Regions from separate parts of the Homo sapiens genome. Here region 1 is linked to region 2. The links come from fine-mapping of genetic effects on gene expression. A gene starts in region 2. The other region holds a variant in brackets. All regions are shown on one strand. Distances are between the middles of the regions. Region 1 has its middle 85 kb from the start of PLPP1. Region 2 holds the start of SLC38A9 (solute carrier family 38 member 9).

Region 1 (8,510 bases), 92 kb before region 2:
ATGCCATAGTTAGTGATGTTATGCCATAGTTAGTAATGTAACAGTACTCAAAAGTAAGCCTCTTCCCCGAGGAACCAGTGCCTAGTTAGCAGAACTAGTGGCACTTACCTGAGCCTTAGAACTGGGAAAGGGAAAAAGGATAAATGTGTATACAGATAGCAAGTATGCTTATCTAATCCTACGTGCCCATGCTGCAATATGGAAAAGGAATTCCTAACATCTGGGGGAACCTCCGTTAAATACCACAAGGAAATCATGAAGCTGTTGCATGCAGTGCAAAAACCCAAGGAGCTGGCAGTCTTACACTGCCAAAGCCATCAAAAAGGTGAAGAAGAAAAGGCAGAAGGAAACCATCGGGCAGATGCTGAGGCCAAAATTGCTGCCAGGCAGAACCTCCCATCGGAAATACCTACGGAAGGACCCTTGGTATAGAACAACCCTCTCCAACAGATTAAGCCCCAGTATTCCCGACTGAAACAGAATGGGGACTTTCACGGGGGCATAGTTGTCTCCCCTCGGGGTGCTTAACGACAGAGAGACAAAGAGGGAGTCAGAGAGAGAGAGAGAGAGAGAGGGCAAAAACAGAAAGTCAAAGAGAATGGGGGGGAGGACAGAAAGTCAAAGAGAGAAGGAAAGAGAGGAAGAGACAGAGACAAAGAGGAAGTCAGAGAGAAAGAGAGAGACAGACAAGGAGTCAGAGAGAGAGAAAGAGAGATAGAAGTAGTAAAGAAAAAACAGTGTACCCTATTCCTTTAAAAGCCAGGGTAAATTTAAAACCTATAATTGATAATTGAATGTCTTCTCCATGACACTCCATAACACTCCATTACCACCTTGTTGTCAGTGTAAACAAGGGCGTAGCCCAAAAACACTGAGGCACTGACAGCCCATAGCCTTCCTATCAAAAATCCTTAACCCAGCAGGTTTCCTAACAGGGGATCTAAATCTTAGTTAATTACTATACAAAGGTCCGACCAGACTTAGGAAGAACTCCCTTCAGGACAGGAAGATAGATGGTTCCTCTCAGGCAATTAAGGGAAAAAGACACAATGGGTATTCAGTAAGTGATAAGGAAACTCTTGTAAAAGCAGAGTTAGGAAAATTGCCTAATAATTGATCTGCTCAAACACGCAAGCTGTTTGCCCTCAGCTAAACCTTAAAGTACTTACAGAATCAGGAAGGAGCCATCTATACCAATTTTAAGTTAATATGGACTGAATGAGGTCTTATTAATAGCAAAGAATAATTGATATCCCAAACTTACAAGGTTTTCAACAGAAGTAAAGTTTGCTAAAAGTTAACAGTATAAAATGTGTTATCCTAACTTCAAAGCTTGTGGAAATCAGACCCTATCAGTACCCCTCAAAGCTCAAGTCAGTTAGCACAGAGCCATACAACTAATACCCCTACTTAAAGGGTTAGGAATGGCCACTGCTACAGGAACCAGAATAGCCAGTTTATCTACTTCACTATCCTACTACCACACACTCTCAAAAGATTTCTGACAGTTTACAAGAAATAACAAAATCTATCCTTACTCTACAATCCCAAATAGACTCTTTGGCAGCAGTAACTCTCCAAAACCGCCAAGGCCTAGACCTCCTCACTGCTGAGAAAGGAGGACTGTGCACCTTCTTAGGGGAAGAGTGTTGCTTTTACACTAACCAGTCAGGGATAGTATGAGACACTGCCTGGCATTTACAGGAAAAGGCTTCTGAATCAGACAACACCTTTCAAACTCTTATACCAACCTCTGGAGTTGGGCAACATGGCTTCTCCCCTTTCTAGGTCCCGTGACAGCCATCTTGCTATTACTCACCTTCGGGCCCTGTATTTTTAACCTGCTTGTCAAATTTGTTTCCTCCAGGATGGAGGCCATCAAGCTACAGATGGTCTTACAAATGGAACCCCAAATGAGCTCAACTCAAAACTTCTACTGAGGACCCCTGGATCTTTGACTGGCCTAGAGAGTTCCCCTCTGGAGGACACTACCACTGCAGGGCCCCTTCTTCGCCCCTATCCAGCAGAAGTAGCTAGAGTGGTCATTGCCCAATTCCCAACAGTAGTTGGGGTGTCATGTTTAGAGGGGGGATTGAGAGGTGAAGCCAGCTGGACTTCTGGGTCAGGAGGGGGACTTGAAGAACTTTTCTGTAGCTAGCTAGAGGTTTGTAAAATGGACCAATCAGCACCCTGTAAAATGGACCAATCAGTGCTCTGTAAAATGGACCAATCAGCAGGACATGGATGGGGACAAATAAGGGAATAAAAGCTGGCCGCCCCAGTCAGCAGCGGCAACCTGCTTGGGTCCCCTTTCACGCTGTGGAAGCTTTGTTCTTTGGCTCTTCACAATAAATCTGCTCACTCTGGATCTGTGCAACCTTTAAGAGCTGTAATGCTCACCGCAAAGGTCCGCACCTTCATTCTTGAAGTCAGCGAGACCAAGAACCCACTGGAAGGAACCAACTCTGGATGCAGGACTGCAGACACATGCCACCATGCCTGGCAAATTTTTTAATTTTTAGGAGAGATGAGGTCTTGATATGTTGCCCAAGCTGGTCTTGAACTCCTGGGCTCAAGTGATCCTCCTGCCTTGGCCTCTCAAAGTGTTAGGATTACAGATGTGAGCCACCATGTTCAGCCCTGTGCCTATTTTTCTACTGGGGCACTGAAGGATTTTACAGAGAAAGGCATAGTCAGTTTCATATTAATTAAAGATAACTCTGGCAGCACTAGAAATGATGGCTCTATCTTTGCATTTCCAACTCTAGGACAATGAGTAAAAGTTTACTGCATTGGATTGGGCTTTAATCTATCTGCAATAAAGGTTTTATATATAATACAGCACCGAGGAGTGATAAAATTATTTATGTGAATTAAGTCTTAGTTTCCTCTCCTCAAGGAGTGTCATAAATTTCTAATTTAGTTTCTAAAAAAAACTTAACATTAATCCTTTAAAGCTGGGCACTTTCGTGCAGTAGAATTAGATCCTTTCTGGAACAAGGTGGAGTATAAAGAAATGTTGCCTTACTCTAATGTTGCTCTTGGTTGTTTGTTTTATGCGTCAAGAGCCCTTAAAAGGTTCCTCATCGCTAAGATAGACTAATACTAGAAACTCTTTGAAAATTAAACCGTTCTTTGAATTCTTCAATATTGCTGAAAGTATCTCTTAAAAGACCCATACCCAGGTAAAAACTTTCCAATCTAAAAAAGAAAAATGTCCTACTTTGATCTCAACCATTACTGAATTTGTATCCCATGCTATTTTGCTAAATCCAATTTAACTGTTCCAGAAATAATGCTTAGGTTTGGTAAAAGTTGCAGTTCTTAAAGGTAGTGGAGAAACTCAGAGCTTGACATAATCAAACAAGGTGACTGAAACATTTCTTCTTATTCCTCCTTCTAACATTCCTTCCAGTTGCCCCTGCGCAGAGTGGTTTGTGGATGGTTTGCCTTAAAGCTGCTGTCAAGGCTCCTCACTTGCATGGGCTCCTTTTTTTTTTTTTTTTTTTAAACGGAGTCTCACTCTTGTTGCCCAGGCTGGAGTGTAGTGGTGCGATCTCAGCTCACTGCAACGTCTGCCTCCTGGGTTCAAGCGATTCTCCTGCCTCAACTTCCTGAATAGCAGGGATTACAGGCACCCGCCA[T/C]CATCCATGCCTGGCTAATTTTTGTATTTTTAATAGAGTCTGGGTTTTGCCATGTTGGCCAGGCTGGTCTTGAACTCCTGACCTCAGCTGATCCGCCCGCCTTGGCCTCCCAAAGTGCTGGGATTACAGGTGTGAGCCACTGCACCCGGTCGGCCTCCTTTCTAATTTGGGACTCCTAATGTTGTGTATCTCCTTAAAGAGATAACTCCAAACTGTATAAGCCTCAGGCCCCACAAAACCTGAATCTACCCCTTTCACCAAGGATCTTTCTCACCTATCCTAAAGGTTCTCCGTCGGTAGGTTCTTGATTTAATGGGTTGACTGTAGCTATATTTCTACAAGTCTTCTTTTCCATGATTTATCTTAGACAGACATCTTTTTAGAAAAATCTGTTAAATAATAAAGTAATAACATAAATGAGTCACTTAGAATCCCCCATAAAACGTCATTCATGTTCATTCTGTGACCACATAACCTTATGTGATTATCATTAACCTAGGTTTTTTGTTGTCGTTTTTTTTTTTTGCTCTGTCACCCAAGCTGGAGTGCAGTAGTACAATCACAGCTCATTGCAGCCTTGAACTCCTGGCCTCAAGCGATCCTCTCGCTTTGGCCTCCTAAGTAGCTAGGACTACAGGCAAGTGTGTCACCATGCCTGGTTAACTTTCTGTTATTATTTTCAGAGACAGCGTCTCATTATGTTGCACAAGCTGGTCTCAAACTCCTGGCCTCAAGTGATCCTCCCACCTCAGCCTCCTGAGTACCTGGGATTACAAGTGCAAGCTACGGCACCCAGCTCTAACTTTTTAAAAGCAGTTTTATTTTGATAAAAATGATTCACTTTACAGAGACCTACTTACTGCAACATTGTCCTATATTCTTCTCTTCAAAACATGTGTATGATGTGGCCACAGCACAGCATTCAGTTGAGACAGGCAGCAGGAAGGGGCAATAGCCTGGCATTTCGGTGACACCTGGAAGGATGACCTGGTTGTTGATGCCTAGAGGTTGGTGAGGGATATTAAAGTGTCAGAGCCACATCTGGCTTGTTCACCACTGTATGCTCAGTGCTTAGCATAAGGTCTGGCAACCAGTCAGTACTTAGTTATTGACTGAATGACTAATATTGAACCTGCTGACCCCAATTTTATTTTGTAATGGTTTTGGGGCTATGGAACAACATCCTAGATAATAGCAATTACCTTATTATTTTCCATAAAGAATCCTGACTAGTTAATTAATTGATTAAACAAGTGTATATTGAGTGCCTACTATGACCAAACAATAGGATCACTTGGGATTGAGAGAGAGCCAAAGGAGGAAAAATCTGGAGTGTGAGCAATTTCCCATCCCCATCGCAGGCCTGTACTTTATGGCCTGAGATAAGTAAGAATGGCCAGGCGCAGTGGCTCAGGCCTGTAATCCCAGCACTCCGCAAAGCTGAGCTGGGGTGGGTCACTTGAGGTCAGGAGTTTGAGAGAGACCAGCCTGGCCAACATGGCAAAACCCCGTCTCTACTGAAAACACAAAAATTAGCTGGTTGTGGTGGCTGGCTCCTGTTATTCCATCTACTTGGGAGGCTGAAGCAGGAGAATTGCTTAAACTCGGGAGGTGGAAGTTGCAGTGAGCCAAGATTGCACCACTGTACTCCAGCCTGGGTAACAGAGCGAGACTCCATCTCAAAAGAGAATAGAGAAGTTGAAAAAGACATAGCCTTATTTTATTTTTGCCGAAGAGATGGAACATAAAAATAATACTGGGGAAGAAGTAATAGTACTTAGAGAAGGGGGAAAATTAGAGCCCTCTATTGGCTTAAGTGGCTCTGGAGGATTAGGACATCAAGCTCTTCCAGGAACTAGGCTCTACTTAACATTCATCGGAAATATTCTTAGAGGGAGAGGTCACAACAGTATATTGTCCTAAAGATATAGTCATTTTAGGTTTCAGTTAACATAATGTAATGCCTTTCTTTAGGATCAGAACACTTTGCGGGGCTCCTTGGGGCCTGATGTGAGGCACAGGGGCAAAGTCACTTGAGAAGTTTGACCCGGCGAAAGATGGAACCCAGCTTCTTCCTGACCTTGGGGCCAGTGCTACCAAGCAATAATATTTCCCAGCAAAATTCAATTAAACAAAATCCCAGAGTTGTTTTCCTTCAAATTATCTTTGATTTAATTTCTTCTTTTATATAAAAGACAACAAATTACATTTCAGAGAACAATGTTTAGGTTATAAGGTTCCCGTCAGAGCTGTTTCACAACACGTGTTTACATAATCTGAAGTGAAGGCAGCAGTGGACTGTAAAACCGGCCAGCCAGGCCAGTTTGTGTGCATCTAGGGGATTAATTTCACTTTGGGTCACAAACTAATGTAACATTCTACTGTTTAGGTGTCAACTAGATTTGGATTTGGTTTTGGATATTCTAATGGGGATGAAATTGAGTTTAGAAAAAACAAAAACCACCACCACCAGATTCTAAAAAGCAATTAGGTCAGTGCTTTGTAAAGAAAACATACAACATCAATATTTTCTGCTCTTATCAATGAGTTCAAACATTTGACACTTTGAATACTGATATTTAAATAAGTCAAATCTTTGGTGAGAAAAACTTATGCATTTTTCTGTTTGTACCACCCAATGTGTTACTAATTATTTGCCCTATTAATCCATTGTGCTTTGCTGTCCAAGATTAACAGAATAATGCAATGTGTTCAAAATGCAAAGAGAATAAATAGCATACAGAAGCATTAAACAAGTCGCAGAAAACTTATCTTAGAGGAAATTTACCAAACTAAAAGCGAATACATTTAACCTATATGATTGCATTTGCTGGTGAAGGTACCAAATATTAAATTTTGGACAGTTATGAGGAGGAACCTGAAAATGGGTCGTTGCTGCTTGACCTCTCGGCTTCTTTTATCAACCCTCCTCAAGGCTCCCAACTGAAAGGGATCTGTTTCTCTAATAGTCCTCAGTATAAATTGCTTTGCATCATAGTTAATTATATACACAGTTCCTTTACTAGATTAAAAGTTCATTTCAGATATGAATGATGTCTTATACATCTTTATCTCCTCCAAAGCACTGGACAGAAAAGTCTTTTACTTCTATAGTTAGTAGCTGCATTGCATTTGCAAAATATACTTAATATAAATAAAGTATTTCCCTTTAATATAGTCCCCTTTTATGAATAAATTTATTCCTTACATCAAAGCATTTTTTGGGTGTGATAATAAAATTGATTTTGGATGATCACCCACAGGTGTCAAACTTAATTTTCTTTGTCCTTTCTGGCTATTAGCATACCACATATTCATATATAGACTTTCTAAGGAAGACCCCTCTAAATAATCCATATTTTACTTAATAATATCCTCAGTTGTATGTTAAGCTAAATTCAAGAGTTAAGCATGAGAGCAAAAAGTGAAAGAAATTCAATTAGAAAATTCAAAGAGATGACAGCAGACAAAGAAGGTCTAAAATTAGTTGAGATATGAATGACTTCATATCTCATCATTCTAATGTGTGGGCCAGGATATACACACTTACAAAGAGTTCTCTGACCAAGCCAAATAATAGGCCAAAGAGTTGATCTCATGAAAAAAAAACTTAAGAAGGCAAAGTCATACAGCGTAAGTCTAATACAAGATTTTAGAAGTTCTAAATTATCGAGTCTTTTTTTCTTTTTTTTGAGATGGAGTTTCACTCTTGTTGCCCAGGCTGGAGTGCAATGGCACGATCTCAGCTCACTGCAACCTCTGCCTCCCGGGTTCAAGCGATTCTCCTGCCTCAGCCTACTGAGTACCTGGGATTATAGGCACACGCCACCACGCCCGGCTAATTTTGTATTTTTAGTGGAGATGGGGGTTTCTCCATGTTGGTCAGGCTAGTCTCAAACTCCCGACCTCAGGTGATCTGCCTGCCTCGGCCTCCCAAAGTGCTGGGATTACAGGTGTGAGCCACCACACCCAGCCAATTATTTTTTTCTTTAATTAAAAAAATTGTTTTTTTGAGACAGGGTCTTACTCTGTTGCTCAGGCCGGAGTACAGTGGCACAATCAGGGCTCATTGATGTCCTGGGCTCAAGCAATCCTCTCACCTCAGCTTCCTGGGTACCTGGGACTACAGCTGCATGACACTGTGCCCAGCTAATTTTTTTTAAATTTATTTTTTTGTAGAGACAGGGTCTCACTATGTTGTCCTGGCTGGTCTTGAACTCCTGGGCTCAAGTGATCCTCCCACCTCAGTCTTCCAAGAGCTGGGATCACAGCTGTGCCCACATCAAGTCTTTTCGTTTTGTTTTGTTTTTTGAGATGGAATTTCGCTTTTGTCACCCAGGCTGGAGTGCAGTGGCGTGATCTTGGCTCACTGCAACCTCCGCCTCCTGGGTTCAAGCAATTCTCCTGCCTCAGCCTCCTGAGTAGCTGGGATTACAGGTGCACGCCACCACGCCCAACTAATTCTTGTATTTTTAGTAAAGACGGGGTTTCACTGTGTTGGCGAGGCTGAGTCTTGAACTCCTGGCCTCATGTGATCCGCCCACCTTGGCCTCCTAAAGTGCTGGGATTACAGGCATGAGCCACCATGCCCGGCCTCACATCAAGTCTTTTAAAGAAACAATAGCAAAGATTCACATTGTCTTTTAGTTTAGTAAATACCTCATTCATTGTCATATTCACTTAGTTCATTAAATGGACAAAAATATATTAAATCATTTTTTCCATGTGTTAAAACATTCAAGTACATTATTGAAAAGTGGCAATGAAACTCTGTCTCCACCTCTCAAAGAACTGGGATGACAGGCATGAGCCACAGTGCCCAGCCCTGTTTCTGAAGTTTTTACAGAGAAGGAAGGTGACTGGGGA
Region 2 (8,510 bases):
ATGAGTCTCTAATTGTTTAAGATTGGTTTTAATAAGGAGTCCAGCTATGATTTGAATGTTTGTGTCCCGTCCAAAATTCATATGTTGAAACTTAATTGCCAATGTTATAGTATTAACAGGTAGACCCTTTTGGAGGTAATTATGTCAGGAAGGCAGAACCCTTATGAATGGAGTTAGTAACCTTATGAAAAGTTTGAAGGGAACTAGCTAGATCCCTTTTGTCTTTCCATCCCTTCCCCCATGTGAGGACACAGCACCAAGGCACCATCTTGGAAGCAGAGACCGGGTCCTCACCAAACATCAAATCTGCAGGTGGCTTGATCTTGGACTTCCCAGCCTCCACAACTGCTAGAAATTAATTTCTATTGTTTATAAATTACCTAGCCTCAAGTATTTCATTAGAGCAGCACCAAGAGACTGAGATAGGTCCCAGTAGGGAATGAACAGCTTAGTTGACTTGCTTGGTACTTTCGACTTTTATTTAAAATGTTGGTGACTGAGCCAGGCATGGTGGCTCATGCCTGTAATCTCAGCTACTCGGGAGGCTGAGGTGAGAGAACTGCTTGAGCCCAGGAGTTCGAGATTGCAGCGAGCTACAATGGCACCACTGCATTCCAGCCCAGGTGACAGAGTGAGACTGTCTCTAAAAGAACAAAAAATGTTAGTGCCTGTACTGAAGCACTTCTCTCCGTAAAAAGGACATAGAGAGCAATCAAAGTAAACTGGTATGACATTATTTTAAAAAGGTATTGACTGTGATTATTGGCGTATCTCAAAGAATATCAGCCCTTTCCATACTAGGCTCAGAAATGTCTTTTCACAATTCTTTGCAAAAATAAATCTATAGAATCTATGCCAAGATGCTAGCATCAATCTGCAATAGAATACACTAGCTTGTGCCCAAATAAATGTGACTATGGACCCACATACAACTATTATATATGTTCTTTCTCAGAGACTAAAAATGAATATTACTGAATACTTTTGTGTATGTTATAGAGTTTCAGATACTACATTTATACTCAGTGTCCTAGGCTAGAGGTTGACATATTTTTTTCTGTAAAGGGTCAGATAATAAATATTTCAGGCTTTTTGAGCCATATAGTTTCTGCAGCTACTCAATTCTACCTGTTAGCATGAAAGGCAATTGAGTGTGCATGGCTGTGTTCCAATAGAACTTTATGAAAAAAATATATCTGTCAGCAGGCCAAATTTGGTCATAGTTTACTCACCTCTGTAGTATGCCAACATAAAAGCAAATGGAACCACACCACAAAAAAGTCACCCTGGTGGAAGCAGTTATGCTATGTATATATATTTTCTTCTGTATTAGTCTGTAACAGCTATAAACTCCAATAACAAACTTATCTAAATCTCTTCCTGATGAATCATTTACTGGTTAGCCAATAGGATCTATAATGCTCCTATTCTGATGTGACAGTTGGAACATGCTTCCAACCTGATCAATAAATGCTTCAAAAGGCGTTAAATTTGACAGTGCTGGAGGATAGTGTGGTCTCACAAAAAAATTACCAAAGCAACGCTGTGGTACCAAAGAATCTCTCCTTCTACAATGGGAACACTAAATGCTCTCAAGTTATATTTCAGTGGTAAGAAAGAAAAAAACCCTAGCAAACGACAGAAATTTAAGTATGTTACAAAATGCAGGCCTGGTAGACATTTTTAACCTCTAAGTGATTTTTTTTTTTTAACTTTTAAGCCCATATATACTTTTTAAAAAATACCATATAGGTCCAGTGTGGTGGCTCATGCCTGTAATCCCAATGCTTTGGGAGGCTGAAGCAAGAGGATTGCTTGAACCTAGGAGTTCAAGGTAACAGTTAGCTATGACAGTGCCACTGCACTAAAGCTTGAGTATCAGAGCAAAACTCTGCCCCTAACCCCAAAAAGAAAAAAAAAATACTAAACAATACTATTTCAATTTGTAGTTCAGGTTGGTATTCCATCCTCCTATGCTGAGTTTACCCTTTATTGTAAGTATTTAGAGTATTATAAAATCACAATTAAAAGCATATTATTTTATGTATGTAACTGAAATATATAGTATTTAAGATTGTGATTAGAAATCTAAGGCTAACTGGCTGGGCGTGTGTGGCACACGCCTGTAATCCCAGCACTTTGGGAGGCCGAGGCAGGCAGATCAAGAGGTCAGGAGATCAAGACCATCCTGGCCAACATGGTGAAACCCCATCTCTACCAAAACACACACAAAAAATTAGCCGGGTATGGTGGCGTGTGCCTGTAGTCCCAGCTACTTGGGAGGCTAAGGCAGGGGAATCGCTTGAACCCGGGAGGCAGGGGTTGCAGTGAGCTGAGATTGCGCCACTGCACTCCAGCCTGGCAACAGAGCAAGACTCCATCTCAAAAAAAAAAAAAAAAAAGAAAAAAAAAAGAAAAAGAAAAGAAAAGGAATCTAAGTCTAACTGTTCTCAGAAGTCTAGGGGAAGGAAAGGTAAATTTTATTTTCTTAGAAACAAAGCAACTATATAGGTGACAACTTTTTTTTTTTTTTTTTTAAGACAGGATCTCCCTCTGTGGCTCAGGCTGGAGTGCAGTGGTGCAGTCTTGGCTCACTGCAACCTCCGCCTGCCGGGCTCAAGCAATTCTCCTGCCTCAGCATCCCAAGTAGCTGGGATTACAGATGAGACGCATACCACCACACCTGGCTGATTTTTGTATTTTTAGTAGAGACAGGGTTTCACCATGTTCGCCAGGCTGGTCTTGAACTCCTAACCTCAAATGATCCGCCCACCTCAGCCTCCCAAAAGTGTTGGGATTACAGGCGTTAGCCACCGCAATCCGCCGAACCTTCTATCTTAACACGAAGTTTGTAGTTGTTTATGAGGCAGAGAGATTTTTCTCAAGTTAGGACATGGGTAATTTTGACCTATTGAAACTTTTTTTGTTTAGTTTTTGTTTTTGTTTTTTTTGAGACGGAGCCTCACTCTGTCACCAGGCTGGAGTGCGGTGGCACGATCTCAGCTCACTGCAACCTCCGCCTCCTGGGTTCAAGCGATTCTCCTGCCTCAGCCTCCTGAGTAGCTGGGACTGCAGGCATGTGCCACCACACCTGGCTAATTTTGGTATTTTTTTTTAGTAGAGACGGGGTTTCACCATATTGGCCAGGATAGTCTTGATCTCTTGACCTCGTGATCTGCCTGCCTCAGCCTCCCAAAGTGCTGGGATTACAGGCGTGAGCCACGGCACCTGGCCAAAACGTTTTTAAAAAATCTTTCTCCTCAGCAGCTGCCTATCCTACATATGTCAGATCTTTGTCATGTCTGAAGGTATTAAAAAGAAAAAAGAGGCTGGGCGCAGTGGCCCACGCCTGTAATCCCAGCACTTTGGGAGGCCAAGGCAGGCGGATCACTTGAGATCAGGAGTTCAAGACCAGCCTGGCCAACATGGTGAAACCCCGTTTCTACTAAAAATACAAAAATTAGCGGGGCGTGGTGGCGGGCAGCTGTAATCCTAGCTACTCAGGAGGGTGAGGCACGAGAATCGCTTGAACCAGGGAGGCGGAGGTTGCAGTGAGCCGAGATCACTCCACTGCACTCCAGCCTGGGCGACAGAGCGAGACTCTTGTCTGAAAAAAAAAAAGAAAGAAAAGAAAAGAAAAAAGAAAACAAGGTGGAGGTACAACTTACAACTTATAGTGTGCTCATCTACAGAGCACGGCAATGGATAAGACACTGCCTGGGAGTCATGACAATTAGGTGTTGGTCGAGTTTGCCATTAAATGGTTACCTGGTGTTGAGTAGGTTTCTCCAACTCGGTGGACCTCAGTTTCCTTCTCTGTAAAATGAGGAGAATGCGCTTGACTAGCTGCTCTCAAACCCCTCTTCCAGCTTTACTATGCTGAGATGTCAAGCTACCCACTATCAACACACTCACTCTCACAACTGAGTCGTGTGAAAAGCGTGGCGAGGGCTTACCAGTCATGGCCCTCACCCCCTCTGTGGTCCTAGCTCAAGGCCCAAAGGGGGTTCCTCCCTCATGTTCCCCCTCTAGATGTCCCCAACTCGGGATGGAGAAAGGTGCTCCCAGCCGTGATCGCGCCACCTCACTCAAGCCCAAGCGACGGAGCAAGACCCTATCTCAAGAGAGAGAAAGAAGGGTGCTCCCATTCCTGCAAGTCCCACAATTCTCCTACTCCCTCCTTCTCTCACCCGAGGGTCAGGGTGTTCATTTACCCCAACCCTATCTTTTCTCTAAGGCTCCAGCTGACACCGACTCCCATAGACACTCGGATTTCCTCAGACCCCGAGGGACTCCTGACTTTCTTTCCCTGAGCCCTTGAGGAGCGCGCGCCGTGCCTCCGGAGCAGTCTCCGCGGCTCCAGGCTATGGCCTCCCTGAGCCCCAAAAGAAGAGACGGTTCCGATGCGCTGCAAAGAACTATCCCAGGTGACAGCCGGCTTCGCCCCAACTTCAACCCTTCCCGCCGCCTTCCCTCGGATACCTTCCCACCTCCCCGAGGGGCGAGTTTGCTAGACGTGGGAACGTGATCTACCTGAGCAGGCCGAGCCTTCAACCTCGGAGAACTAGACGAGAAGATAAAGATTCCCTTCCCAAATTCTCGCAATTTGCGACCGCGGGGCTCCTAGTCCAAACAGGAAGCGGCAATAGCCTGGGTCGCAGGGGCCGGCGGGAGTTGGAGTTCTGAATGCGCCAAGCCCGCGGTCGCTGTCAAACCTCTCGCCGCTACGGACTACAACTCCCAGAGGGCTCTGCGACGGCCAGCACGCCCATCACCGCAGGGCCCAGCCCCGAGGCTTCAGGAGGCTGGGCAGCCGGCGCGCCCAGGTGGGCGAGTCCAGTCGGAACTGCAGCCCCGAGTTTGCTCCAGTTCCTTGTCCCGGCTGGAGGCTGGGAGGGGTAGTAGAAGGAATGCAATCTCTTGCCATTCATAGAGCCCCGGAGGCCACGTGAGAAAACGCTGATGCGGCACCTCCATCGAGGGATCACCCCTCTTTTGGGCTTTCCTGGCGCGTGTTGTATGATCTGGTTACGTCCTTGGACCCTACAGACACAAAGGGAAGCTGGTTTGAAAAAACTGTTGAGTTGGCATGCTCCCTCCGTCGTCTAGATATTTGGGTTTGTTTTTTAAAAATGTGTTTGCAAATTAGTCTCTAGGCTAAAAGGGGCTTTAGAAGGATTTTAGAGGCCCACCCCACATACCCAGCAATTTTCCCCAAAACCTCCCCAAGTAAACATACAGTCTAAGTAAAATTAATGTGCTTGTTATGAAAATCAGTTCAAGGTCAGTCCCTGAAAAGCATATGGCCACCCTAAGCTCTTCTTACAAAGGAAGCCAGTGGCTCTTTTTGTTTCTTTTTCTTTTTTCTGTTTAAACCAGAAGAAACAGTGTCTGTAATGCCAGAAAAAAAACTAAAAATTTAGACCGGCTCCGTGGCTTATGCCTGTAATCTCACCATTTTGAGAGGCTGAGGTGGGAGAATCACTTGAGGCCAGGAGTTGGAGACCAGTCTGGGCAACATAGGGAGACCCCATTTCTACAAAAGAATTTAAAAAATTAACTGGGCAGGGTGGCACCTGCCTGTAGTCAAGCTTACTTGGGATGCTGAGGCAGGAGGATCATTTGAGGCCAGGAGTTAAGGCTGCAGTGAGCTATGATGGTGCCACTGCACTGCAGCCTGGGTGACAGAGCAAGACCCTGTCTCAAAAACAAAACGAAACAAAACAAAAAACCTAAACTTGAAAATTCAAATTTAGGCTGGGTGCGATGGCTCACACCTGTAATTGCAGCACTTTGGGAGGCTGAGGAGGGCAGATCACAAGGTCAGGAGTTTGAGACCAGCCTGACCAACATGGTGAAACCCGTCTCTGCTAAAAATACAAAAATTAGCCAGGCGTGGTGGTGTGCACCTGTAATCCCAGCTACTCTGGAGGCTGAGGCAGGAGAATCGCTTGAATCCGGTAGGCGGAGGTTGCAATGAGCTAAGATTGTGCCACTGCACTCCAGCATGGGCGACAGAGCGAGACTCAGTCTCTAAAATAAAATAAAATAAAAATTCAAATTTAACAAATAGCTAACATTGAATGCCAAGAATTTTACGTGTATATCTTTTTAAGTCTTTACCACAGTTCTGGAAATGATAATATCTCTTTAAGTCTTTATCACAGCTCTAGAAATGTATATTTTTCCTGTCTTACAGAAAAGGAAATAGTCCCAGAGAATTTAAGTGCCTTGTACAAGGCTAAACAACTACTAAGTGGCAGAAGATCTGGAATTCATACTAAGATCTTATCCCAAAGCCTGCGTGCTCTCAAACATTGCGTCTATTATGGAGGGCTTGACAAATGCAAGGCAAACGATTTAATGAATGTTGTCTTTAAGGGAGATAAAAGTTGTTTTGCTGATGGTATTCTTGTTCAAAAACTTTTTTAACTGTTCATTGGCCCTGCCTTCAAGTCAGGGCTGGTCAAGTAACACAAGTCAGTAATACATTCTTTTGATAGTTTCAGTGATAGCAACCTTTCTTTTTTTTCTGCATTCCAGGCTGAGAAAATAATTTCAAGCAAGGCTGGGAAACACAAAAGTAAATAGTATGAAATGATGTCAGCAAAAAATGGGAAAAAAGTAGGGAACTCAAAAATGAATAAGCTGGCAAAACTGTCAGGAGCACCTTTTTTGGAAACTCTGAAACTGATAAAAAAAACTCACAAAATCCAGGGGAACATGTAATGAAGAAAAAACTGCTGAATTTTGGTAAGAGAGTTCTGTGGTCATCTTCTATTCTCCAAGTTGTCAGTGGCCTTGAAGATGGCAGCCACATTCCTGGTGTGGGTTGCTGGCACCAGAGGGAGCACTATGGACCTTATCCTCAAGGAATTGTAGGTGTGTTTTGACCTCCCTGATGGTTTCCTGAAGGTTCAACTCAACGGCTTGCCTTTGTTTCACCTGCCTCAGAGCTTCCTCAGGGCTCAGGCAGCTTCCCAGGCAGTGTTTGTCAAAAACATTAAAGGCAAACAGCCAGTGTCACAGAAAGCAAGGTATGAAAGCCAGGACAAGCAATAAACAGACCAAAAATCCTGGGAAGGAAGAGGCTGGAGAAGGAGATAGTTGGGGGAATAAAGGCTTTGGAAAGCTTCATTTTATTCTGGGGAATCTAGAAGGCCATCGGCATGCCCTGGTCTGGATGCATACTCAGAGAAAAACCTAAGAACACCGTAAACTCTCACCTCTGACTGACCGTCAGCTTTCATGCAAGCAGGAAGTGAAGGCTAAGGTGGCGTTGTAAACTACCTCGTTAAGCATTGAAGGGGTGCCAGAACACATAGCTAACTGGCAAAGACTGGGAGTGTTTTCTCGCATTTTGGGCTTTTATCTTTTTATTTTTTGGTTTGAGACATTTAATAAAAGAAATAAACAACAACAAACTCTGGTGGGGAGTGGGAGAAGCAGATGTCCATAATTACCATATTATATACAAAATGTCCAGTTGTCAACAAGAAAAAATTATGAGGCATGCAAAGAAAAAAAGTATGGCTTATTTATAAGGAAAACATTTTTAAAGAACATTCCTTTGGGAAGCCCAGACATTGTCAACTGTCTTCAATATGCTCAAAGAACAAAGAAAATAATAGACAATAACTAAAGGAAACCAGGAAAAGTGAATTGTTCAATAAATAGAGGATACTATTAAAGAGGTAGAAATTATAAAAAGAAAGCAAATAGAGTTGCTGGAGTTGAAAAGCACAATAATTGAAATATAATGTTCACTGGAGGGGTTCAATAGCAGATTTGAGCAGGCAGAAGAAAGATTGGGGAATTTGAAGATACATCAAGAGTATACAGTTTGAGGAACAGAAAGAAAAAATAAGAAAAATGAACAAGACCTGTAAGGATTGTGGGACACTATCAAACAAACATTTGCACAGTGGGAATTCCAAAAGGAGAGGAGAAAATAAAGGAGTGTAAAGAATATTTGAAGAAATAATAGCTGAAAAATTACCAAATTTAATGAAAGACAGGCGTCTACACATCTAAGAAGCTCAATGAACTTCAGGGCGGATAAATTGAAAGGGATCGACACCAAGACAAATTGTGATTAAATTGTTAAAAGACAAAAACAGAGAATTTTGACAACAGCAAGAGAGAAATGACTGGTCATGTATAAGGAATCTTCATTAAGATTAACAGTAGGCTTATCATCAGAAACCATGGAGCTCAGAAAGCAGTGGAATGACGTAAGTGCTGCGAATAAAAGCCAAAAAAGAATCCTGAATCTGGCAAAAGTATCCTTAAAAAATGAAGGAGAAATAAATATGTTCCTAGAACAACAAAACGGAAGGAGTTCATAACTACAAGGAATACTAAAGGAAGTCCTTCAGCCTGAAAAGAGGCTAGGAGAGAGTAGCTCAAAGCCATATGAAGAACTAAAGAATATCAGTAAAGGTAACTACATAGGTGAAATTAAAAGTAAGTAGTTTTCTATTTTTGGATTTGTAACTCCTCTTTTTTAA

Evidence for each region. PIP is the estimated chance that this variant, and not a neighbour inherited with it, causes the effect.
Region 1: its variant is fine-mapped to the expression of SLC38A9 in whole blood (INTERVAL, PIP 0.95).

What each region holds. Positions count from the first base shown.
Region 1 is chr5:55,615,482-55,623,991 of GRCh38, forward strand. No RefSeq gene overlaps it. Among named protein-coding and RNA genes, the nearest start is that of PLPP1, 85 kb to the left of the region's middle. The variant T/C (reference allele first, on the strand shown) is at 3,645.
Region 2 is chr5:55,707,684-55,716,193 of GRCh38, forward strand. SLC38A9 (solute carrier family 38 member 9) reads right to left here and starts at 4,641. Exons shown (of 16, transcript NM_173514.4): 1 at 4,534-4,641; 2 at 3,769-3,816. RefSeq lists enhancers at 4,089-4,168, 4,739-4,788, 4,879-5,068, 4,904-5,547.